Homo sapiens: one gene and its partners. The protein of the gene in region 1 purifies or fractionates together with the protein of each later gene. This does not show direct contact. Each region holds a gene or a part of one and is shown in the gene's direction. Other genes may lie near its edges.

What was found.
Region 2: the proteins of VDAC2 (region 1) and GALNT2 fractionate together in Homo sapiens (co-fractionation; one large-scale study listed by BioGRID). This does not show direct contact.
Region 3: the proteins of VDAC2 (region 1) and SEPTIN11 fractionate together in Homo sapiens (co-fractionation; 2 studies listed by BioGRID). This does not show direct contact.
Region 4: the proteins of VDAC2 (region 1) and SCCPDH fractionate together in Homo sapiens (co-fractionation; one large-scale study listed by BioGRID). This does not show direct contact.
Region 5: the proteins of VDAC2 (region 1) and IMMT fractionate together in Homo sapiens (co-fractionation; 2 studies listed by BioGRID). This does not show direct contact.
Region 6: the proteins of VDAC2 (region 1) and RAB2A purify together in Homo sapiens (affinity purification with mass spectrometry; 2 studies listed by BioGRID and IntAct, with this or other methods). This does not show direct contact.
Region 7: the proteins of VDAC2 (region 1) and BCAP31 fractionate together in Homo sapiens (co-fractionation; 2 studies listed by BioGRID). This does not show direct contact.

The regions. Positions count from the first base shown.
Region 1 is NC_000010.11:75,224,296-75,227,795, forward strand, and holds part of VDAC2 (non-selective voltage-gated ion channel VDAC2), read left to right. Parts: intron 1-3,500. UniProt on the Homo sapiens protein: Non-selective voltage-gated ion channel that mediates the transport of anions and cations through the mitochondrion outer membrane and plasma membrane.
Region 2 is NC_000001.11:230,262,738-230,266,237, forward strand, and holds part of GALNT2 (polypeptide N-acetylgalactosaminyltransferase 2 precursor), read left to right. Parts: intron 1-184; coding exon 185-268; intron 269-2,503; coding exon 2,504-2,630; intron 2,631-3,500. UniProt on the Homo sapiens protein: Catalyzes the initial reaction in O-linked oligosaccharide biosynthesis, the transfer of an N-acetyl-D-galactosamine residue to a serine or threonine residue on the protein receptor.
Region 3 is NC_000004.12:77,019,252-77,022,751, forward strand, and holds part of SEPTIN11 (septin-11), read left to right. Parts: coding exon 1-10; exon of another isoform or gene 11-1,250; coding exon 1,251-1,419; exon of another isoform or gene 1,420-1,525; intron 1,526-3,007; exon of another isoform or gene 3,008-3,500. UniProt on the Homo sapiens protein: Filament-forming cytoskeletal GTPase. May play a role in cytokinesis. May play a role in the cytoarchitecture of neurons, including dendritic arborization and dendritic spines, and in GABAergic synaptic connectivity.
Region 4 is NC_000001.11:246,734,409-246,737,908, forward strand, and holds part of SCCPDH (saccharopine dehydrogenase-like oxidoreductase), read left to right. Parts: intron 1-1,566; coding exon 1,567-1,647; intron 1,648-3,500.
Region 5 is NC_000002.12:86,167,963-86,171,462, reverse strand, and holds part of IMMT (MICOS complex subunit MIC60), read left to right. Parts: intron 1-81; exon of another isoform or gene 82-117; coding exon 118-255; intron 256-618; coding exon 619-714; coding exon of another isoform or gene 715-722; exon of another isoform or gene 723-2,150; intron 2,151-3,500. UniProt on the Homo sapiens protein: Component of the MICOS complex, a large protein complex of the mitochondrial inner membrane that plays crucial roles in the maintenance of crista junctions, inner membrane architecture, and formation of contact sites to the outer membrane.
Region 6 is NC_000008.11:60,582,987-60,586,486, forward strand, and holds part of RAB2A (ras-related protein Rab-2A), read left to right. Parts: intron 1-1,221; coding exon 1,222-1,304; intron 1,305-1,736; coding exon 1,737-1,829; intron 1,830-3,500.
Region 7 is NC_000023.11:153,703,888-153,707,387, reverse strand, and holds part of BCAP31 (B-cell receptor-associated protein 31), read left to right. Parts: intron 1-3,293; coding exon 3,294-3,429; intron 3,430-3,500. UniProt on the Homo sapiens protein: Functions as a chaperone protein. Is one of the most abundant endoplasmic reticulum (ER) proteins.

The DNA.
Region 1 (3,500 bases):
CACAGAAGCATTCTGTGTTGTGAGAGAATAGTAGGAGAAACTGAGTTGGTTTTTTTCTGTATCCTCAGAATTGATGTCAGGATTGGGATTTGCTAGAGTGGCTCTAGCTAGAGTGGCTCATCGAAGCATGGTTTAGGAAGAAAAAGGATAAATGGATGGGAAATGAGGAACTTTTGACTCCTGGGTGGTCAGATGGTCACCCCTGCTATGGAGCCACAACTGTGCTGTGCTCAGGTACTTAAAAATTACCAGTGGAATTCAAAGATAGATCCAACTCCAAGGGAGTTGGTTCACTGGGTGCATAAGGAAACGCAAACAATAAGAAACAAACAAAATATACAATCCCTTGATTATTGTTATTTGTGATAGCTAAAATCAAAGTGAAAGAGTGCTGGATTGTACCTTGATGCTAGACCAAGCTCAGGTTTCATTTGGTTTAAGCCTTGGCCACCAGCCTCAAAGCCACCTTGCAAGGGTAAAAAGTACCCCTAAGACCTGTATTTGCTGTATTTTGCCCAGTTTGGAGAAATTTAAAAAGTCAGAAGTTAGAGATTACATTGAGAAATGTGATCTGAAATTGCCTGGGGCAGTAGTCAGGCTTATTAATCAAGATAAAGGCTGACAAATGGGGAAGGGTAGATTTCTGTTGGAAAGGCAAAGCAAATATCTCTAATTCTTACTGATCTGTAACGAAACTGATTTTTTTTGTACCATGCTCATACTGCCATATGGTAATATTGTTGGCAGATTAAACTCCCTTGTGTAAATAAGTCTTATAATACTGATTGATGATTATATGTATTGTGAAATTGAGTTGAAGCCTCCTCAGGATATAATACCTATGGAAAGTGACTGGCCTGAGGAGGAACTGGATCTCACTATCAGCTGATTTCCATCCTGAATAGTTCTGCACAAGGTACAAATAACAGTAGATCAAGGGAAAAGAAAGCTGGTACAAGATGATAAAGATGTTTCTAATGGCTTCTGTCAACCTAAAGGAAGAAACTAAGGCACAAAATACAATTTTAAAGAATTTATTTGCACCATAATGAGGACAGCTGCCCAGCAGACTCAGATCCAAGTGGATTTGAGCTCCATTTGGCCCTTGTTACAAACAGGTTTTTAAAGGCCAAAAATTCGGGACAGGATGTGGGCTGATACAAAGTTGTTTGGCAGGAATTCTCTTTGGTTTACAGAAATAACATTGATTAGTGATTGGCTATACATTGTTCTTTGTATCACAGATTCCAGGAACATGAAGATAATGGGTGAGGGTCACATTGTGCAGTAACACTTTAGATATTTGCCAGCGAGCCTGGAAACTACAAGGAAGGAAAAAAAGAACAAAGTGTTTTTAAACAATTTCCCCTAGGCATGGGGGTGTGTCCTGTGACTAAAGTCTCATTCTCATGTCTCTCTGGGCCTGATAAACTTTGCATACCTCACATTCCTCATACTGCTGAGCTATTTTTTTTTCTCTTCATAGGACCGAGTAGGTTTTTTTTGTTTTGTTTTGTTTTGTTTTGAGACGGAGTCATCCAGGCTGGAGTGCAGTGGCGTGATCTCGGCTCACTGCAACCTCCACCTCCTGGGTTCAAGCCATTCTTGTGCCTCAGTCTCCTGAGTAGCTGGGATTATAGGTGCCCACTACCACACTCGGCTAATTTTTGTATTTTTAGTAGAGATGAGGTTTCGCCGTGTTGGCCAGGCTGGTCTCAAACTCCTGACCTCTGGTAATCCGCCCGCCTCAGCCTCCCAAAGTGCTGAGATTACAGGTGTGAGCCACTGCGCCCATCCTAGTTGCTTCTTTAAACCTATCCCTATCCCACAGTAGCTTCTCCAGATGATAGGCATATTTGTGTTTGTACTCTTGTAGATATGTCTGTTATATAAATGCAACAAGTGTAAACATCCTTGACAGATATATGGACCTTTTTGCTGTAAGGGATCCCTGTTTGAAACCAGGGGGTGGCCTATGATACTATGGTGTATATATTTTGGTTTTTGTCAAGTTCCTGGCTCACAGCTTCTATAACCCTTGCAATTTCCCAAGTGACTAGAGCCGTAAGAGTGTATTTTGTTGAGATATTTGGCCATTTGTCCTCGGTTCCTGAAACAGCTCCAGAGCATAAAAGTGAAAGACAGTCTTTTGTGGGTTTTTTTTTTTTTTTTTTTTTTTAATGAAATCTCACTGTCATCCAGGCTGGATGGAGTACAGTGGCACCATCTCTGCTCACTGCAACCTCAACCTCCGCCTCTCGGGTTCAAGCAGTTCTCGTGCCTCAGCCTACTTAGTAGCTGGGTTTGGAGGTGCCTGCCACCAAGCCCGACTAATTTTTGTATTTTTAGTAGAAATGAGGTTTCACCGTGTTGGCCAGGTGGGTCTCCAACCCCTGACCTCAGGTGATCCACTTGCCTTGGCTCCCAAAGTGCCGGGGTAACAGGAACGAGCCACTGCGCCCTGGGCTATGTTGTTATTTTTAACAGGCCTCTTTCAACCACATCTGAACTTATGTTAATGAGGTGATTTTTGGATAGTCCCTAGATGGCCACATGGTAGGGGGTGCTGGTTGCTAGGGAACAAACCTTCTGCCTTGGGGAGGGCATAGTAGCTAAAGGTTGAGCCAGTGGCCAGTGATTTAATTAATCGTGCCTTTGTAATGAAGTCTCCTTTGTAATGAAGTCTCTGTAAAAACCCAAAGGACTGAGTCCAGGGGGCCTTCAGGAAGGTAAACAATAATACATTCATGTCATGGGAGGGTGGGGCACCCCAGCTCCACAGGGATGGAAGCTCCTGTGCTTGGGACCCTTCAAGACCTCACCTATAAAGGAAAAGATATATAAGTATCTTTTCATCTGGCTGTTCATTTATATCCTTTAAAATATCCTATATAACTGGTAAATGTGTTAGTCCCTGAGTTCTGTGTGCCACCCTAGGAAATTACTTGAACCCCAGGGGGTTGTGGGAACCCCAGTTTATAACCAGTCTGTAAGAAGCAGAGGCAAAAGAACCTGGAGCTTTCAGTTAGCATTGAAAATGAGGGCGGGGCAGTTTTATGAAACTGAGCCCTGAACCTGTGTGATCCGATGCTCTCTCTCCAGGTAGATAGTATCAGAATTGAATTAGAGAACATCTAGCTGGAGTCTGCTGCAGAATCGTTTGCTTGATGTGTGGGAAATTCTCCCTAGGCCTTATGAGAGTATAGAGGGAGAAACTGAGTTTATTTTTTCTACTCCTTATCACAGTTTCATGGTTTAACTCTTACTGTTAAATAATAGGAATTTTTTTTTTTTTTTTTTTTTGGAGACAGAGTCTCACTTTGTTACCCTGGCTGGAGTGCAGTGGTGCGATCTCTGCTCTGCTCACTGCAACCTCTGCCACCCGGATTCAAGTGATTCTCCTGCCTTAGCACCCCGAGTAGCTGGGATTACAGGCGCCTGCCACCGTGCCTGGCTAATTTTTGTAGTTTTAGTAGAGACGGGGTTTCACCATCTTGGCC
Region 2 (3,500 bases), on another chromosome or scaffold:
CCCCAGCGTTGAATTCAGCTACCCAGGTGCCAAGGCGGGAAGGGGTTGTGGGCACAGGAGCATGGGCAGTCCACACCACACCACCTGCCCCAACCCTGTTCTCCTCAGCAGATTTTCAAGTTTGATGTAGAAAGCCCATCTATTCTTAAAATTTATAAAGGAATCTTATTTCCCTCTTCTCCAGTATTCAGAGCAGATTGGAGCTTAGGAAGAAACTCAGCTGCAAGCCTTTCAAATGGTACCTTGAAAATGTCTATCCAGAGTTAAGGTAAGTCCCCAGGGATCTGGGGTTTCACTTTGTAAGGGCTTAGAAGCCAGTAAGGCCATAGAAGCAGCAGAGGGGAAATGGAGGTGGGGCTGCAGGCATGAGATTGGGCACCTGGGCCCCAGTGAGAGCCTGTGGTCTCACTCCATGGTGTGGAGCTGAGAATCTGCTCCCAAGTTGGCCTGCTGCTGTCTCTGTCCTGCAGAGCTGCCCTCCCATGCTTCGGAGTCCCAGAGGCAGTCCCCCGGGCCTCACCTTGTTTTTGGCTTGTTCTCCATTGGCAAGGTGATGGGCTGGGTGACCTGAAGGACTGGTGTCTGACAGGCTCTTCGAGTGACCAGGAGCAGTCCCCAGCCTCCGCAAGCATGCAGTGTCTGCAGCCAGCCCTCGATCCCCCCGCCAGGCGCCTTTGCATGCCTCCGATCTGCTGCGCTCACCCTTGCTGCTCCTGTGGGCCAGCAGATAACAGCCCCCACGAGGCTCCCTCCTCCCAGCTAGGTTAATCACATGTGAAACGGAAGTAATAATGCTGCTGCCCCACGTCCCTCCGGAGGATTCATGGCAGAAACACCTTTCTGAGCATTATTTCCACACCCAGCCTCTTGTTTTAAGCGAATACGAGCTCCCCATCTGGAGGGACCTGCTGATAACCTCGTGAGAAGACCTATAGATCCGCTGGGGTGGAGGAGCCATCTGCACTTCATCTTCTTAAAGGGACTGTCAGGCAGGTCGTGCCTTAATGCGGCACATTCCTTATTCTAAATATTCCCAGAGCATTTTACAGCGGCTCACATATCTCCAGCACAGTGCCTGCGAACGCAAGACTTGCCACCATTATCTTTCCGCTAACAGCTCCTTCAGAGCCCTTGTCACGGAGATTTGTTGGACAGTTAGGTAATGCGGCCTCTCTCTGTTGCTCCTGTTCGCTCACTTGGCTCTTTGGAACCGTTTCCTCTGCTTTTCAAGTAACATGCCAGGCGCCAGGTGGCCCATGCCCCCTAGGAGGAGAACAGGAGAGAACACAGCGTCCTTCTCCCTCGGATCCCTGCCGTGCAGGACAGCTTTTGCTGGGGATTGAGAGCACCAGATGGTCACCAGCGATGGTCACCTGCAGCGGCAAGGGTGCACTGGTCACAGTTGCTGGTTGCAGGGCCCTGGTCTTCTTCCTGCCAGCTCTGTCCTCTCGGCCATGTGCACTCAACCCAAAAGAACCCATTCTGCCTCTGTGTCTGGCCCCAGAATATGATGTCTACACCTCCTGCCTGGTGTCCCTATACAACAGATTCTTGACTGTGGGCACTAAGGCGGCTGCTCATCAACTCTCCGTCAGCCAAAGAGGGGCTTCAATTCAGTGGATTTTAACCCAACCATGCCACTCACTTTGCTTTTTCAGTCACAGTTGACTGCCATTTCTCACAGAGGTCACCCATGGTTTGTAGTGACACTGGGCCCCGCACCCACTGAAGACCACATCTGAGGCACTGAGCACCATCCTGGCTGGCAAATCTGCTTCCCCTGTCTGTGGGGGGTGAGGGAGACATCAGCCTCGTGTTTTGTGTCTGTAATATCACCGCCGTTTACTGAGTGCCTCCTACGAGCCAGGCACTGGGCCGTGTGCTTTACACGAAATGTTCTATGTAACACTTGCAGCAGATCTGGGTAGCCCATAGCCTACCAAAGGGCAAATCGAGCTTCAGAGAAAGTGAGTCTTGCCTGAAAGCCAGCACCTGGCAGAGGTGGGCTGAGGTTTGGATCTGGTTCTGAAGCACGTTGTTCTTCCCCGTGGCTGTGGCTTTGTTCACATTAGACCACCTGACAAGTCTGCCCACCTTTCCCGTCTTTACTGGATAAAGGTCAGATCCTAAGTGTATTGGAAAGTTCAAGGCAACAGGATCTGACCACATTGATTTTCTAAATGACTTCCAATAAGACTAACATTGAAGAGTATCAGGAGCTTTTCCTTCCTTTCCAAAAAAAAAAAAAAAAAAAAATGACCTGATATAGAATATAAAGAATACTTCTGCAACATACAGTCTTAAAGTGTTGGAAGTCCAGAGCCTGGGAGAAATGCCGTGTCCCTGACACACACTACCTGTGGTAGGAAGAGGCACGATGCCTAGTCACTGGGTCTTTCTCTCGTTCCTGTCACCTGTCATGAGGCCACTGAGCAAAGGGGCTGGTGGACGGGAGCTGGTGGTCATGTGCAGTGAAGCAGGTGATTCTCACGTTGTTTTTCAGGGTTCCAGACCATCAGGATATAGCTTTTGGGGCCTTGCAGCAGGGAACTAACTGCCTCGACACTTTGGGACACTTTGCTGATGGTGTGGTTGGAGTTTATGAATGTCACAATGCTGGGGGAAACCAGGTATGTGCATGGGGAAGCCAGGTCACCTGCAGGCCCAGAGAGAGCAGGAGTTGGGGGGGTCCTGATGTTAGAAGTCCCAGCTGCCACCTTTCTCCTGGGATGGGTGATGTCTATGAGGAAGCACCTGGCTCCTGCTGGCCACAGCCTCTTTGGCAGCCAGCACCAGGGCCAGATAGAATGTCACACACTTTGGTGCATCAGCTCTGTCATCAGCTTCGGACCAGGCTCTGCTGCAGCGGCAAGGGTGCACTGGTCACAGTTGCTGGTTGCAGGGCCCTGGTCTTCCTGCCAGCTCTGTCCTCTCGGCCATGTGCACTCAACCGCAAAGCACCCATTCTGCCTCTGCGTCTGGCCCCAGAATATGATGTCTACACCTCCTGCCTGGTATGCCTATACAACAGATTCTTAACTGTGGGCACTAAGGCGGCTGCTAGTTATAGCCCCTGCCTGTTAGATAATAGCTTAAGATAGAAGATACTCAGTATTAATTGCTTCCATTGCACACATACACACCTTTTCTGAGAGGCATAAAAATGCACAACCGCCAGGCGCCGTGGCGCACGCCTGTAATCCCAACACTTTGGGAGGCTGTGGTGGGTGGATCACCTAAGGTCAGGAGTTCAAGACCAGCCTGGCCGACATGGTGAAACCCATCTCTGCTAAAAATAAAAAAAAAATTAGCCAAGCGTGGTGGCGGGCACCTGTAATCCCAGCTACCCGAGAGGCTGAGGCAGGAGAATTGCCTGAACCCGGGAGGCAGAGGTTGCTGTGAGCTGAGATCACACCATTGCATTCCAGCCCAGGCTACAAGAGCAAAGCTCTGTCTCAAAAAACAAACAAACAAACAAACAGAAAAACCCACTACCTTCT
Region 3 (3,500 bases), on another chromosome or scaffold:
GTGGTGCAGGGTATGTGCACAGCATGGGAGATGGAGTCTTCATATTTAGCCCCTATGTGAATGGCCGTGTTTGTTCATTTTCCGTCTTGTTTAGGGAGGCCCTCAACAGTGGGCTGGCAGTGGGAGGGAGTGGTGGGGCTCCACATGTGACAATCGTGGAGGTGAGGAAGAAAGAAAAAGTAATCAGCTAGGTAGACAATGGAGAGACATGGCTGCCAAGCCCTTGAGGTAACCCCTCAAGGATGCTGGGTTGTGTAGGGAATTAATATAAAGTCCTGATTGAAAAATAGTTCTTCCCTAGGAGTTGGAGCTCGTTTCATCAGCCAAGTATTAAAAAGCAGCAAAAAGTTTCTTGCAAACAAGAGGGTACTTTTTTCTCCATCAACTATGCAAAAAATGTCTTCTAATAAAATGTTATCTTAGTAAATCTGAGACTTAGGAGAATATTTGATCTATATTTGGCACTGTGGGACATGGCCACAGTCTAACCTGAAAGCTTGTCACGTGTGTCACTTTGAATGACAAGGACTCTATGACCTACTCTTATGTTCTGAAGGAGGACATCCAGTGCTATGGATTAAGCAGGATGGCTAAAGAAAGTTCTTCGCTGGTTTAAGATGTATCAGACCTCCTTTTCCTCTGTTTTGAATAAAGGCAATAAAGCTGTGAGAAGAAACAGTACCTTTGAGATCCCTGGGAAAAATACAATTTTTCTTACTCTTACTAATTTCTCTACAATAAGAAAACTCCTTTCTTCCTAGTGTTGTTGATAAAATTAAATGAAGTGGTATGTAAAAGTGGCCCTGCACAGTTATAGACAGCATGGAGTGGTACAAATACATCTGGCTTTGGGCCAGATGTTCTGGCATTTGAATCTAGACCCTGCTACCTCTCTTTGGGAGGTCAGCTTGCTCACCAAGCTCCTGCGTCTGCAAAGCAAGAGTCATGACATCTAGTTGGCAGAGTTATTATGAAGGGTAAAGACAATATTTGTTTTCAAGCTCCTCCCTCTGTGCTCTGTGCTGAGTAGGCACTCAGCAGTCAGCGTTGTCATCAGTATTATGGTCAATGTTGTCAGAAATCTTGTCTTCGTCAGGAATGTAAGGTGAATCCAGTAAAGGATCTTCAGATGGTCTTGAGACCCCAGAGATTTCAGGAGTGATGGTAATAACATCTTGGAAGCATCACTGCAGATATTTCAGTGACATCATTGCTAATCCCACTTCCGCCATTTCCCCCCTCTCTTGTAGTTGAGAATGAAAATCATTGCGATTTTGTGAAACTTCGAGAGATGCTGATCCGCGTGAACATGGAGGACTTGCGAGAGCAGACTCACACCCGCCACTATGAATTGTACCGACGCTGTAAGCTTGAAGAGATGGGGTTCAAGGACACTGACCCTGACAGCAAACCCTTCAGGTATGAAGGCATCTAGCAATCAGGTGTCTCCCAGACAGTGGCGAGAGTGGCATGGTGGTACATCACAGAAATGCTTGCTGGATTGAGATGGTGATGATGGAAGGATCTGGTGGGTGAAGATTAATACATATGTTGTCAGGCATTGTGATAATTGCTTTATTTGCATTATCTCAACTAACTTACCTAGTTGATGTCATTATTATCCACATTTTACAGATGAGGAAACAAAGGCACTGAAAGTGTAAACAAACTGCCCAAGGTCCTCCAAGTAGTAAACAATGGTGTGGTGTTGAGCTCTTGCCATCTGGGTCCTGAGCCCAGGTTTCTGCCAGTTCTCTTGCAGAGGTGCAGAGCCTGGTCGATATATTTACAAAGGTGCGGCTGCTGATTACAGTTTGCCCCATTCATTTTTGCCAAACACCTTTAACTTCCGGAGGCTCTTCCTTTGTCAAGCACTTTTACTATTAGCTTTCAGTGGTTCGGTAAAATTCTAACAACAAAGAATCAGGAGGAAAGGAGAATAGCTTTTAGGAGATCTATGTATTTTCTTATATCACTGACGGGTGGAGACGCAAAATGTGAAGGGGAGAAATGGATGTAGAATTAATATCCTAGCCGAAGCCCAGACCCCGTCAGAATCCAGTGGTAGGGATAGGGCTGGCAAGGCTGGGGTGCTGTTGCCCACACCGTAGTGAGTCATGGGGTGGTTCTGGGTAAAGTTGTGGGGTGAGGCTGCCAGGCCAGGTTCACCACCTCCTGGTCGAGGAGAGGATTGTCCAGATGGTGCCCAAGCAGTTTTCTTTCTTTTTTTTTGTTTGAGACGGAGCCTTGCTCTGTCACCAGGCTGGAGTGCCTCGGCCTCCCAAAGTGCTGGGATTACAGGCGTGAGCCACCGCGCCTGGCCCCCAAGCTGTTTCTTAATGGGGATTTGAATTCAGGTGGTGTGAGGTGTGTCTGGGCTCTGTGCCTTTACAAACTGAGGGCCATAGTTCCTTGGGGAAAAAAAACCTGTCTTTCTCCTCTTTGGCCTACAACACACTCTGATGTCTACAAGCTGGCTGACAATAGAACCGGAGGCAGCCTGTGCACAGCAGATTCTGTCCCCGTGGGTCTGTAGGAGGGAGTTTATTTTCTTGCAATTGCTTTAGAGATAGTTTAGGAATGCCTGGGCTTGTCGCCTGGCACTGTGCTGCTGAGGAGTTCCATGAGCATGTGTGTATGCAGTGAGAACAAATGCAGAACCCAGACAAGGGGCATACCAAGAAGTTAACTTCTAGCCAAGATTGCATCATTCACTTCTGCCCTGACGGCTTGCAAAACTGACCATCTCCAACCATGTGAAAGTCATGTTCTGAGGCGAGGTGTAGGACACCTTTTTGTGTACACAGGTTTAGCTAATTGAACCTTGAAATGCATTTACCAGAAAATAATCCTTACAAAATCAAGTCCACTTTATGGTTACTAAACCTGATGAAATGGTTTCTGTGTGGGAAAGGCCGTCTTCAGTATTACATAAAATATTTGTTTTCATGCAAAGAGATATGGAACAAAAGGAACTGCCATAAAATTGAATTCATTTTCCCCTCACCTTCATTCAAATCCAGACAGTGTTGAAGAGCACTGGGCTAGGAGTCAGGAGTTTGGGTTCAGTTCTTGGTCCTGCTACGCTACAAGTTCTTAACCCATCTGGGCCTGAGTTTCTTCATCTGTGAAATGAGGAGCTGATCCAGATCAGGGAATAATTAGATCCAGTAAAAAAAAATTTTTTTCCATACTGGGTTAGACAGTAAATATTTTAGGTTCTGCAGGCCAAACGGTCTCTGTCACAACTATTCAGTTCTGCCCTTGTCGTCCGAAAGCAGCCATAGACCATACTGTAAATGAATGGGCATGGCTGTGTTCCGGTAAAACTTCATTTACAAAAACAGATGGGGGGCCAGATTTGGTCCTCAGGCTGTAGTTTCCCAACCCCTAGACGAGATCATAACTTGGAGCCTGTGAACTGCCTGCAAAAGTTAGAATGCATGTGACTGCTTCTTGAGTTTGTTAGAGGTCATTTACCTCCCAAAGTGTTTTACTTC
Region 4 (3,500 bases), on another chromosome or scaffold:
CATATAGTTAGTAGGTGATGGATTCCAGGTGTGAACTTGGGTCTTACTGCCTTGAAATCCTTTGTTCCATGATACCATACTGCCTCAGAAGTAGAGTTCTTCATTAATTTCATGTGGTTTGTTAATGGGAGGGTAGGAACTCGAATTTCACACACTTCTCCCAGTCCTGTAATTCCAGTGTTATCCGCCATTCTTAGTAAGAGGTGTGAGGTCTTGGAGTTAGGTAAGAGGGCAGCCCATCTGACCTATTTGTAAAGGTCGATTGTGTCTTTTAAGTGTCCCTTGTTCCTCAAAGGCTGGAAGAAAGAAACGATTTCCTTGTTCCATCTTTTGCTGCCAGGAATGAATAAAGCAGAGGAGTTTGTGCTTCTAATCTACTTCTTCACAAAGGAAAAGATTTGTCATGCTTCTTTGGAAATGGGACTGAATTCTGATGTATTAGCTTTTACATATGAAAATTTGTATTTTAATTCCTTGAGTTTGAATAACAGATAATATGGGAAATCTAATATCATACAGGCTCAGAATATCTGCTCTGTTCAGTATCAAACTTATCCTTTGCAAACTCTCTTCTTCCTGTTGGTTTGTTTTTAATTTTGACCAATAATACCACTGGTTCTTGGCCCCCATGTCCAGCCCAGCTAGTCAGGAAATCCAGTCATTTCCACCTTTTTAGTATTGTATGTCTCATCTTTAGTATATCGTCTGTGCTATAAGTCTTATACCACTATCCTGTTTAAAATTCTTCTGGAAAGCCAAGTAAACTAGAAAGGATAAAGTTGAAACTTGTTAGCATGGCACATGTGGTCCTTCCTGATGTGGCCGTAGCCTGCCTTTTCAGACCCATCTCTTTCTACTTCCTACTCAAGTGAATTTGATTCCTGCTTCAAGCAACAGGAACAGCTCCTTTTTCTTAACCTCTGCATTTACTTTTTCCTGTATCTGGATTTTTCTTTTTCCTGGAAAATTTTTATTTGTTCTTTAGGGTTCAACTCAAGGGAATCACTTGTATGAAACTTTTCCTTTTGTCTTCAGGTAGAGGTAAGCATACATTGCTCTGTAATTCCATCATGCCTTTATTTATTCACACTGTGAGAGATGGTATTGTGCAGGTATCTTCTCAGTTTATCTTTTTGTTTCTGAGACGGAGTCTCACTCTGTCGCCCAGGCTGGAGTGCAGTGGCACGATCTTGGCTCACTGTAATCTCCACCTTCCAGGTTCAAACCATTCTCCTGCCTCAGCCTCCCGAGTAGCTGGGATTACAGGTGTGTGCCACCACGCCCGGCTAATTTTTGTATTTTTAGTCGAGATGGGGTTTCACCATGTTGGCCAGGCTGGTCTTGAACTCCTGACCTCAAGTGATCTACCTGCCTCGGCCTCCCAAAGTTCTGGGATTACAGGTGTGAGCCACTGTGCCTGGCCACTTTCTGAATTTATCTTTAGGCTATTTTATTAACAGTTGATTTCTTGATAACTAGGACTGTTTACTTCCAGGATTAGATGGCATTTTATTCATTTAAACTTGTCAAGCAAGAATAACCTCTTTGTTCTTTTTGTTTCCCTAGTATCGGTTTTATGGAGAACCTGTAATAAAAGCATGTATTGAAAATGGAGCCAGTTGTATCGACATCAGTGGAGAACCTCAGGTATAAAAAATAAAAAGGAAAAACGTAGAATTAACACATAAATTTCGGTTTAATGAAGTGGAAATATTTAGTGTAATTTTGCAGACATATTTAGAAGCCGACAACTCCTTTCTAGCATTCAGATATGGTATTCGTGTGGTATTCCATTGATAGCTCAAAGGAGAGCGCTGATGGTAAGGTCTTAGCTTCAGTTTTCTGAATTTTTTCCCTCCCTACAACATCATTTCTTATAGGTCTGTGCTTATTATAGCTACTTCATGCTTTAAACTGAATCAATTAAAATAGCGGACTGTGCATAATTCTTAGAATCTCAATTCTGTCATGTTTTCATTTTGAATTCCCTTTTAAAAATCAGGTACCTTTAGGCCGGGCACGGTGGCTCACACCTGCACTCCCAGCACTTTGGGAGGCCAAGGCGGGCAGATCATGAGGTCAGGAGATCGAGACCATCCTGGCCAACACGGTGAAACCCCATGTCTACTAAAAATACAAAAAGTGAGCCGGGCATGGTGGCGGGCACCTGTCATCCCAGCTTCTTGGGAGGCTGAGGTGGGAGAATGGGGTGAACCTAGGAGGTGGAGCTTGCAGTGAGCCGAGATCACTCCACTGCACTCCAGCCTGCGCCACAGAGCGAGAGCGAGACTCTGTCTCAAAAAAAAAAAGAAAATTCAGTTACCTTTATAACATTACAGAAAAATAAAGGTAAAATTCACTAGTGTAAAATCAACCTAAACATTTTAAATGTTCACATTTATTGAATGCTTACCATATGCCCAACATTGTGCTAAGTGTTTTATGTAACTTTTTAAAAATATACCTATAGGGTAGTTATCTTCCTCCATTTTTTGTAGATGAGGAAATTAAAGCTTAGGAAGCTTAAGTAACTCACTCAGTAATGCACCTAGTAATGCACCTAGTAATGCACCTAGTAAGTAGAAGAACTAGGTCTTCAATTGAGGTTTGCCTGACCACAGGAAGTTATGTGTTAACAGGCATTAAGCTCTACTACAGCCTTTAAAATGGTAACCTCATGTGTCTCTGTAGTAACTACTGATTATCATCATCAGCATGCCAATATGATATTAATATGCATTTGCAGTTTATCAATTGGTAAAATACTGGAAAATACTGAGACAGTGTAAATTACAAAAATTGATTCAAAAAGGAGGAAACAAATTAAAAAAAAAAAAAAGCCCAGGCGAGGTGGCTCACGCCTGTTACCCCAGCACTTTGGGAGGCTAGGTGGGAGGATGACTTGAGCTGGTGAGTTAACAAATTAGCCAGGAGTTGGTAGCACACACCTGTGGTCCCACCTACTCAGGAGAATGAGACAGGAATATCACTTGAGCCTGGGAGGTCAAGGCTGCAATGAGCTATGATCATGCCACTGCACTCCAGCCTGGGCAACATAGTGAGACCCTGTCTCCAAAAAACAAAAACAAAAAACAATTCCCATGTTATTTTAAATAACCCAGAACATAGAAAATGGTGAAAAGCTTTTAAGTCATCTAGAAACTATCATAAAAGTAGTATCGAACCCCCCCCTTTTTTTTTGATACAGGGTCTCTCTCTCTCACCCAGGCTGGAGTGCAGTGCTACGATCTTGGCTCACTGTAACCTCTGCCACCTGGGTTCAAGCGATTCTCCTGCCTCAACCTCCTGAGTAGCTGGGGGTACAGGTGCACACCACCACACCTGACTAATTTTTGTATTTTTAGTAGTGACAGGGTTTCACCGTGTTGGCCAGCTTGGTCTTGAACTCCTGGCCTCAAGTGATCCACCTGCATCGGCCTCCCAGAATGCTGGGATTACAGGCATGAGCCACCACGCCCAGCCATAATATCAAAACCTAA
Region 5 (3,500 bases), on another chromosome or scaffold:
TATTTGTGTCTCTAAGGAGTCAGATGTGAAGTGGGTGGTGATGGTGGTAGTAAATTTCTGTGTGTTTCTCTGTTAACCCAGGAAAGTATAAATACCATGAGTAACATATATTTATAGCACCTACAGAAGCGGCTCAAATTATTTCTGCAGCAGGTGATACCCTGTCGGTCCCAGCCCCTGCAGTTCAGCCTGAGGAATCTTTAAAAACTGATCACCCTGAAATTGGTGAAGGAAAACCCACACCTGCACTTTCAGGTAATTTAATTATTTCTATTTGTTCTTTTATACATGATACACTCATCAGAACTATTTAATGCCTAGGCAACACGTAGACACTAAGTATACATTTACACTAGGTTTAGGTCTTCAGAGTTTCTTAGGAAATTTTTAAAATTTAAATGTCCGAATGTATCTTTTTAAACAAGAAGATTAAAGCCTGATTCCTATTTCTTCATTTTGGAATCATTAAGAGTAATGATATGGTTTTAGAATTCTTAACACAAAAATGCCCTGCATTGATATAACTGGCCAGTACAAACGATGCTTTTTTTATATCCCTGTTAGCTATTAAAATTCTATGCTGAAATTTGATTTCCTCTTATTTACTTTTGCTGCAAGAAGAAGCATCCTCATCTTCTATAAGGGAGCGACCACCTGAAGAAGTTGCAGCTCGCCTTGCACAACAGGAAAAACAAGAACAAGTTAAAATTGAGTGTATGTAAACCAGACAGCTTCTTAAGGATTTTGGGTCATCTCCCAGTTGCTCTCTTCTTAAACTATCAGCACAAGTTTGTCATCTATCACCTAGTTGTGGTTTCTTTTGTTGCTGCGGTTGTTTTTTAGTGGCATTGCTTTATTCATCACCTTCATTTCATCTAAACTTCTTTTACCTAAGTGACAAAGGCTATTCTTAGTGTATAGTTGGTGAAAACTCCAAATAATACTAAAGATTATGTTAGCGCTAAAGATTCTTTATACTCTGGGAAACAGAAATTGATTATTTATGTTTTAGCAGCTTGCCTAAAAGTCCTTTATTTATTTTTTTGAGATAGGCTCTTTTCTGTCACCCAGACTGGAGTGCGGTGGCACTGTCATGGCTCACTGCAGCCTCAACCTCCCAGGCCAAAGCCATCCTCCCACCTCAGCCTCCTCTGTAGCTGGGACTACAGGCGTGTACCACCATACCCAGCTAATTTTTTAAAAATTTTTTATAGACACAGGCATCTCACTATGTTGCCTAGACTGGTCTCGTACTCCTGGGCTCAAGTGATCCTCCCACCTTGAACTCCCAAAGTGCTGGGATTACAGGCCTGAGCCCTTGTACCCAGCCCTAAGAGTCTTTTATTAATAATTGTTAATTTATACTTGTAAATAATTGTTTATTAATAATTGTAAATTTATTTGTTGGAGTCAGAATGGCTTACACTGCCTTATCATCTAGCCTCTGGACTCTCTAGTAGTGCTTTTATCTGACACTGGTGGGGCATGGAATGTTCTACACATCGCTGGTTTCCAGCTAACAAGCATATTCCTTTTTAAGTTTCAGTTTTATGGTTTTTTTGTTTGTTTGTTTTTAAGAGATGGGCTCTTACTGTGTTGGTCAGGGTAGTGTTGGACTCTTGGCCTCAAGAAATCCTCCCACCTTGGCCTCCCAAAGTGCTGGGATTACAGGCATGAGCTACCACACCTGGCCAAGTTTTTTTTATCATTATTATTATTTTTGCTGTCCTCGGTAGGTCAGGATTCTTAAATTTTTTGATGGTTTAAAAAAGATAATAGATATTTATCAATTTATTTTTCTGTCTTAAAGCACATGTAACATAATTTTTTGTACTGTGCTATAATATGTTGATGTCTCTGGAGGTCGTGGGATGTAGCTTTTTGCTGGACAGAGAGTTCAGTACTCATGGCAGCTGTTTATAGTTTTTTGATCTCCTTGTCATTTGTTTTGCTCCTGTTTCCCTTGTAATGTGCTGGTTCTGCCCTACCCTGAGGAACCAAGTTTCTTAGAATAGCATAGGTGTCATTCTGTGCCTATGGCATTAGTTTTCCTACTTGGATTTGGATTTTCGTTTTTGATTTTTTGTATTCTTCTGATTGTGTTACAAATATTTGTGAATATTTAATAAATGACTTCTAACTAAGTGAAATATTTCATTTTTCCTACTTCTTTTTTCTTTTAGTCCTGTTTTTTCTTCACTTTTCACTTTTCTCTCTTTATCACTTGGGCACCTTGAAATTAAGTTATAAACGTAAGATGGAGATGTCTGCTGTTCCAGCTGTTCTTTTCCTTGCCTGGTTCCTCTCATCTTTCATTTTGGGCAAAGTGAAAATTTTCAGAATTTTATCTGTCACCTCTTAATTCCCCCTCAAACTTGACTTTAAAAATATACACATATGCATTTGCATGTGAAATATTTATCAAGGATCAAAGGACAGTGACTAAACCTCTGAAGAGGGCTGGAAGCAGCAGGTGCCTCCCAGCAGCCCACTTTCTGTGGCCTCCATAAAGTGGTTCACAACTGCCTGTACTTGATGTCCACTGTTCACTCACGCATGTCATGGGATCCAAATACCACGGTTTCTCTCCCTTGCCCCTTTCTCTTGTTGTATCCCCTGCTCTCATTTCACTTCTATCACTTCTGTCAATTTCTTTTTATTTTCTCCTTATTAGTTTTCCTCTTATCTTTCTTGCAGAGGTACCATTTGTAGTTCCTCAGATTCCATTTGTTCATTGCTAGTTTATGCTTCTTTTCCTCAAAATCATCTTTTTTTCTCGCTTGTCAAATACATTTTTTATTTTTTGTCATGTGATATCATTTATTTAATTAATTTGTTTTGAGACAGAGTCTCACTCTGTCACCTAGGCTGGAGTGCAGTGGTGCAATATCGGCTCACTACAACCTCCAACTCCCAGGTTCAAGCGATTTTCCTGCCTCAGCCTCCTGAGTAGCTGGGACTATAGGCACCCACCACCATGTCTGGATAATTTTTGTATTTTTAGTAGAGACGGGGTTTCACAATGTTGGCCAGCCTGGTCTCGAACTCCTGACCTCAGGTGATACACCTGCCTCGGCCTCCCAAAGTGCTGGGATTACAGGCGTGAGCCACTGCGCCGGCCCATTTATTATTAAATTAGTATTCTTACTAGCCGCCTTTCTTCAAATGACCATTTATTTTTGCATTTTAGTAAATTATCTAAAATTGTCATTTGCTTTACTTTTTGGTATTCCCGAAACAGCATATAGAAATGTGATCTTAATAGATGGAAGCCTCTTGAACATTGGTGTCTGCTATTTCTTGAGTCCTTTTATGGAAGAACACTGTCCATTTCAAGTTGCCTTTGGGTTTTGTTTTGTATTTTTTGACCTGTTTTCTTATTTGTCTTTTTCTTTCTCTTGTCTGTTTTCTTGTATCTTGTCAACATAAGTGTTTTGCTATGAGTATTCCTTCTTGCCAAGGGGATGAAATGGGCACCTCTTTTTCCCTGTTACGATTGT
Region 6 (3,500 bases), on another chromosome or scaffold:
GCCTGCTATATGCCGGACCCAGTGCCTAGCACACACTTAGTCACATGCAGGGGGTGGGGGATGGGGGAGGGAGGGAGTATAGAGGAAGGGTCAACAAGAGCAAGGTATTGTAGAGTGTTGAGTGTTAAACAGGGTAGAATATGAGCCGTCCATGCGCATTCTGAGGGTGGGAAGGGCTAAATATTTACATTGCAAGATCAGAACTCAGAATGTGTAAACATCAATATTTTTCAAGTTAGGGGATTTTGAATATAAAAATCGTTAAAATTGGCTTTACGTTTACTTAATTAAAATGCTTATGTTTTTGCAAAAGTAGGAAAAGAAGGGATTAAAAATGAAAAATAACTTCTTATAAGAGCTGTCTCGGTTTTAAACTCAGACAGAACAGTCACATTCCTCCCCAGCAATTCTTAAAAAAACAGAAATTAGTACCATGAGTAAAAGAGAAATTACCTAGCTTTGCATAATCTCTTGTGTCTGTTTCACAAGTGGATATAAAGATGACTTTTACATCCTGTTGCCTTTTGACAAGCATTATATATCAAATACAGAGAAAATTGATTAAGTGTGGAGAAAAAAACTTATATAAATTAAATTCAGAACCATTTTGCTTTTCATAATAAAATGATTGCTCAAAGAATTCCATTTGATGACTGTTGAAAGCTCACTGCAGTTTATGATATAACTGATAAAATCTGCATCCTTGGCCTTCCAACAACCTTTACACCAGCAGATGGTGGGCGTAAAGATGTCATTCATCATTTATTTACAATGGGTTTTATTTATTCTAGTGTCAACAGCTGCCCCAGGGAGTGGGTTATTGAATTCAAATGTGAGGCTCTGGGTTATTTGCTTCCTTTCAAATTTGTCTTCAGAGCTTAGTTGCTAGGAGTCCATTCTGTCCTTTAATAATGATTCGTGTATTGTGAAGCCATTCAGTAAATTGGGTTGTCAGGGATTGCCAAAAAGGGTTTAGAGGTCTTGCGGGCTGGGGAGGTTGCAGGAGCGACTACATGTGCACTACATGTGCGTCTCGTTGACTTGAGCAATCTTGAGCAATAGCGGTGTTTTGTAACTTTTTCCTAAGACTGGTGAAGTTAAGTTTTCTTGTCTCTCTTTATGCACTCCTTCCCTACCTGCTCTTATTCTGTATATGAATAATATGAAAATGTAGAGGACATTGTATTAAAGGAAACTCTCCAACCTTTTTTTTCGTTACAGGCAGGGCAAGAATCCTTTCGTTCCATCACAAGGTCGTATTACAGAGGTGCAGCAGGAGCTTTACTAGTTTACGATATTACACGGTGAGAACTTGAAAACTTTGCAATTCAGTAGTTGATACAGAGAATTTTTCTAAATAGATGTGGTTAACAGTAATGAAAGAATAGCTTAGCCTTTCTGCCCCGGCTACTCACCTTTAAAACTGCATCTTGAGTCCAATTTAAATTTACTACAGAAACCTGCAACTGAATTGTTTTTCTTATTTGAATTAGCACCTTCAAATTGAAATCGGCCATATTATTTATTCATTGGAATTTTCTAAAGTGTGATTACATTTAATTTATAAACTGAAATACAATCAGTGAACTCTAAACCCAGATATGGTGCTTAAAACTACTTCTCGTTACATAAGTGGATATGGCTAAAAGTGGTTCTCTTTAAAAATATGTATATTGTTCGTTGTATACTGAGGGAAATGCTTTGAACATAGTAATTAAATTATTATTTATGTTTAGGAGAGATACATTCAACCACTTGACAACCTGGTTAGAAGATGCCCGCCAGCATTCCAATTCCAACATGGTCATTATGCTTATTGGAAATAAAAGGTAAAAAGGCTAATTTAGAGCTTACATTGCATTAGTGATGAAGACTGTACTGTTTATTTGACTACTTTCCTTAACATTTGTTCAAATGTGAGTTACCAGCCTCTTAAATTATAAAATTTCGGAAATTCTAAGGTGTTTCTTTTGATTTTTAAAATGATGTTAATAAGCTTTGTTGGAAATTATTACTGTTATTATTAGAAATAGTTTTTGTGTAAAGAAATACTTTAAAAAGTAATCTGAAGGAGTTTTATCAGATTACTGATGTAAAGTAAAGCCTACTGATTTATTTGGGGAGTTGGATTGAACATCTTTGTGCTGTCAATTTAAAATGCTATTATATGGGAAAACCTTCTTGCTTGACCAGTTTCCATAAACTTCTAAGAGTGTGGGAAAGTTTTCACTAATTTTTGTAGAAACTTACAGTGGTAAGAAAATATTAGTATTTTCAAAATGCTAGGCACCATTCTTTTTGTTTTGTTTTGTTTTGTTTTGTTTTGTTTTGTTTTGTTTTGTTTGAGACAGGGACTCACTCTGTTACCCAGGCTAGAGTGCAGTGGTGTGATCATAGCTCACTGCAGCTTGGCCTCCCGGGCTCAAGGGAATCCTCCTGCCTCAGCCTCCAAAGTGGCTGAGACTGTAGGCATGCACAACCACAGCTAGTTTATCTTTTTATTTCTTATAAAGAAAGGGTCTCACTTTGTTGCCCAGGCTGGTCTCAGGCTCCTAACCTCAAGTGATTCTCCCACCTGGGCCTCCAAAAGTACTGGGATTATAGGCATAAGCCACCACACCCGGCCCATTCATTCTTTAGGGTTATATTAATAAAATACTCTGAAGAGATGCTGTTTTTAGATAGGTAAAATCATGACTTATATGATAATGAAGACATCTCAAAACTTTTATCTCATTAATTAACAAGATAAGGAAACTGGTAAGATATTTCAGCCAGTTCAAAAGGGAACTCAAATTACTATACATTGATAATCAAATAAAGAAACTGAAATGAATTTACAAGATGGATGCAAAACTGAACAGTATTCACAGGGTATTAATTGTATTCCACAGGACACAGTCTGCATTTCCATGGACAGGAATTATTTGCGTTTATTCCCACAAGTTAACTTCTCTCTCTGCAGTCTTTGAAAATGTGTGAGATGCAGTTAAAATAGTACTATCAAGAAAATTTTTAAATGAACAGCCTAGGGCCAGGTACAGTGGCTCACACCTGTGATCCCAACACTTTGGGAGGCCCAGGTGGAGGATTGCTTGATCCCAGGAGTTCAAGATCAGCCCGGGCAACACAGGGAGACTCCATCTCTACAACAAATTTTAAAATTTAGCTAGACATGATGGTGCATTCCTGTGATTCCAGCTACTCAGGAGGCTGAGGTGGGAGAATCACTTGAGCCCAGTTGAGGCTGCAGTGAACTGTGTTCATGCCACTGTACTCCAGCCTGAGCAACAAAGCAAGACCTTGTCTCAAAAAAAAAAAGAAAATAGCCTAATTTTTTTGCCTTAAGAAACTAGAATAAGAGCAAATCAAAGTTAAGGAAAGCCTCCTGCCCGTTAAAAAAAAAAGAGAGAGAGAAAACCAATGAAACCAAAAGCTAATTCTTCAGAAGATAAAATAAAATAGATACTGATCAGGAAAAAGACAAACATTAGCAATAT
Region 7 (3,500 bases), on another chromosome or scaffold:
CCCCTTTTTTTTTTTAGCTATACTTGCTGGAGTGGGCGGAAGACCCCTTTTCAGTGTGCCAGGTATGGGAGTGCAGAGATGAAGGCACAGTGCCCAGCCTAAAGACCTTCATAGCCTGGTAGGGCAGCCATATAAACGGATGGCAGCCACGCAGAGAACAGAGAATGAGGTAGTTACATGCGGGTGCCTGGGGGGCTGCTGCAGGAGCCCCCAGAAGGCGTCCCTCTGATGGGGTGGGAGATCCAAAAGGGTTTCTGGGGGGAGGTGAGGATTGAGCTGGGTCGAGAGGACATTCCGGCCTGGAGAACTGCCACACAGAGCCAGGCGTGTTCCAGGAATGGTGAGGGGTTAGGTGTTACTAGAGCAGGGGGCCACGTGGTTAGTGAAGGAGGAGAGCTCACTGAGGGCATGCGTGCTGGCAGCAGGTGGCTTAAGCAGAGGGCTGACATGGTCGGATTTGCCTTGCTCTGGGAGGTGGATGGGAAAGCCGTATGGCAGCAGATAGGGAGGAGGCGCCAGCAGTGGGGATGATGGTGGGCATGTTTGCAGTTGACATGGAAAGTGCTGGGTTGTGGCTTGGGCTGGGGGCCAAGAGGGCTGAGTCCAAGGCGGTTTGCCTGCCCACCACTACAGCAGGGGCTACACGAGGTGGTCAGGTCAGGCAGGACAAGGGAAGGCCCGTTTTGGACAAGCTGAGTCTAGAATGTCTCTGGGGACATCCAGGAGCCAATGTTTAGCAGGAGGTTAGGTATGAGTCTGGGCCACAGAGAAAACCCTTTCGGGGATAAGAGTGGCTGGGAGGAAGGTATAGGGTGTCAGCTGAAGAGTGCAGACCCCAGAGGGAGCAGAATAACAGTGGGAGGAGGGTGTTGCGAGGGGACCTCAGGAGGGTAACTTAGCAGCAGAGCAAGGAGTTCAGGGTGACCTCCGGCCTGGGCGGTTAGGAGGCCACTGGTGGCCCTGCTGCTGGCTTGGAAGGGCAGGCCTTGGCCAGCCTAGGTTGAGGAATATATGGGAGGGAAAAGACCAGGGGCTTGGGCAGGGTGACTCCAGGAAGGAGGCAGTTGAAGGTGAGGTTCCTGGGGGGAGAATGATCCCGGGTCATCCAGCAGGAAGAGAGAGGACCTAGAAGGTGTGAAAAAGAACTATCGGGCTGGGGGTGCAGTGGGAGGAGTATGCCCGGGGTGCTGTGGGGGTGGGGAGCGCCTGTGAGGGTTGGCAAGAGGAAGGGGAACCGGGGCCTGGCAGAGGGGAGCCCCAGACTGTCTCAAGGCTGGGAACTGAAGGCCTGGGCTGGGGCTGAGCAGGGCCAGGCTTTCGGACACACACAGCGTGGATCTTGCGCTGGACTTTGTGTATGCCCTGGCCTATCTTGGAAGCCCTGGTTCTCAATAGCCGGGAAGGGCCTGGGACGGTCCGAAAAGAGCTGGGCCTCTGCTGCACTGCCGCGGAAGCATTTGTGTTAGCTATCTCCCTGGGTACTGGGGTGACAGCCATGGGCACTCACCAGCAGCCGCTTGCCTGGCCTGGTGGCGGGGAGTATAGCCTTCAGTCTTGCTTGGTCCTCTCTCTACCACCAGGTGGCATGACCCCCACCCCTCAATTCCAGCTGGGAGGAGCGGTCCTCTTCCTCTTTCTACATCACTGGGATCCGCTCTGGGGCTGGGCAGCTCCTTGCCGGGGGCCTGGGTCTTAGTCAGACTTGCCTTTCTTTCTAGGCCTCTCCATTGACTTCTGGCCATGCCGATGTGAGTCAGATGCATTGTTTCTCTCTGGCTCCTAGGGCGCTCAGTAGCTTCCTCCACCTTCAGGCTGTAGCCCAGTGCGGGGCAGGCTGGTGGGCAGCTGGGGGCTGAGGCAGGGAAACCTGAGCCCTAGGCCACGAGGTCCTGGGCCGCTAATTTTAGAAAGCACATGTCACTGGAAACTCTCCTTCTCTGCCAGGAATCAACGGCCTGGCTCTCCTGGTGCTGCCAGGGGCCCCTGGGAGCCTCTCCCCAAACCAGGAACCTCAGGGGTGTCTCCTGGCCCGGGTGGGTACTTTCTGTCCTGAGTACATCTGGAAAGGGGCTCTGCCGAGGCCCTGGAGAGCCATGGCTTGGGCCAGGGAGGTAGCTCACCTTGTCTGCTCTTTACTTTCTCCAGCCCTTCCGGGCTGCCCCTGGCCATGAGCAGAGGCTGTGAAGTGTGAAGGCCTGGCTGGGGCAGGAGGCCACTTCGACTCTTCTGAGTAAGCTGTTGTTGAAGCACTCTGGACTAAGCAGATTTGTCTCTTCCTTCCCCCAGGCCCTGTGTGACCCTTGCCTTCTGAGGTGTGTGAGAAAGGAACCCCTGCCTTGTTTTGACTGTTTGAACGAGTCCTTCCCTCCTCTCTTCCTGCCAGCTAACATCTCGGGGCAAGGGTGAACCAAGGGAAATGAAGTGGCCATTCCAATCTCTGTTTGGGGACTAGCATCTGCCTCCAGCTGCCACCTGTTTGCCTGTCTCTCCTGGCTGCTTCAGAGAGGCAGCCTGCGCCTGTGTCCTGATTCCTCTACACCCTCCAGCCCAAGAAGACCTCATTCGGGGTGCTGTTACATAACGGATGTGTTCCAGCGCAGCCTGCATGATGGGTTGGGAAGGAGGCTGGCCAGAGAAGAGAGTTCTATCTTACGTTGGGACCTGGGAGCTGTTCCCTGTTAGTTTAGAGAGCAGAGTGGTTCCGAGCTCAGGTTCTGGAGTCAGGCAGACATAATTTGGAATTCCAGCCATGTCCATTTCTGGTTTTTGGCCTTGGGTACATTGATTTACGCTGCTGAACTTCAGTTTCCTCTTCTATAAGCTGGGGCAGTGATAGTAACTTCCTCATCAGGTAGATGTGAGGATGCGGCCTGGCATGTTGGAAGTGCTTGGATTGATTAGCTTCTCTCGTTACCTTACCAAGGCAAGCCCAGCCTCGCAGGGAGGAAGGTGGTGCTGTGGCTTGTCTGGCACGTCTAGGCCCCGACCCGGAAAGTGCCGCGTTCTGGGACCTCATGCTGTAGCGAGGCTCTTCCCAGCCCCCCAGGCTCCTGCTTCCAGCCCCTCTGAGAGCTGAGGGTGGCCGTTGGGCACAGCGGCAGAGGACGGCTCCTGGGCCCCACCTTTTCCCTCACGCTGCCAGCACCAGGTTGGCGGCTTCTCACTCGGCTGCCTTGGCAAGAGGGCAGGTCCAGGCTGGAGCTAGGTGTGGAGTGGGAGCAACCAGGAGGTGCTCCTGCCAGCCCTTCATGCTCTTTTTCTCACTTCTCCCTTCTTTTTGTAAATAATTGCAGCCTGCTTAGACGCCTGGTGACTCTCATTTCGCAGCAGGCCACGCTGCTGGCCTCCAATGAAGCCTTTAAAAAGCAGGCGGAGAGTGCTAGTGAGGCGGCCAAGAAGTACATGGAGGAGAATGACCAGCTCAAGAAGGTGAGCCCAGCTTCCCGACCCACCATGGGGCGTCCTGGTGTTACACTGTGGGAGCCACATTCTTCAGGGCC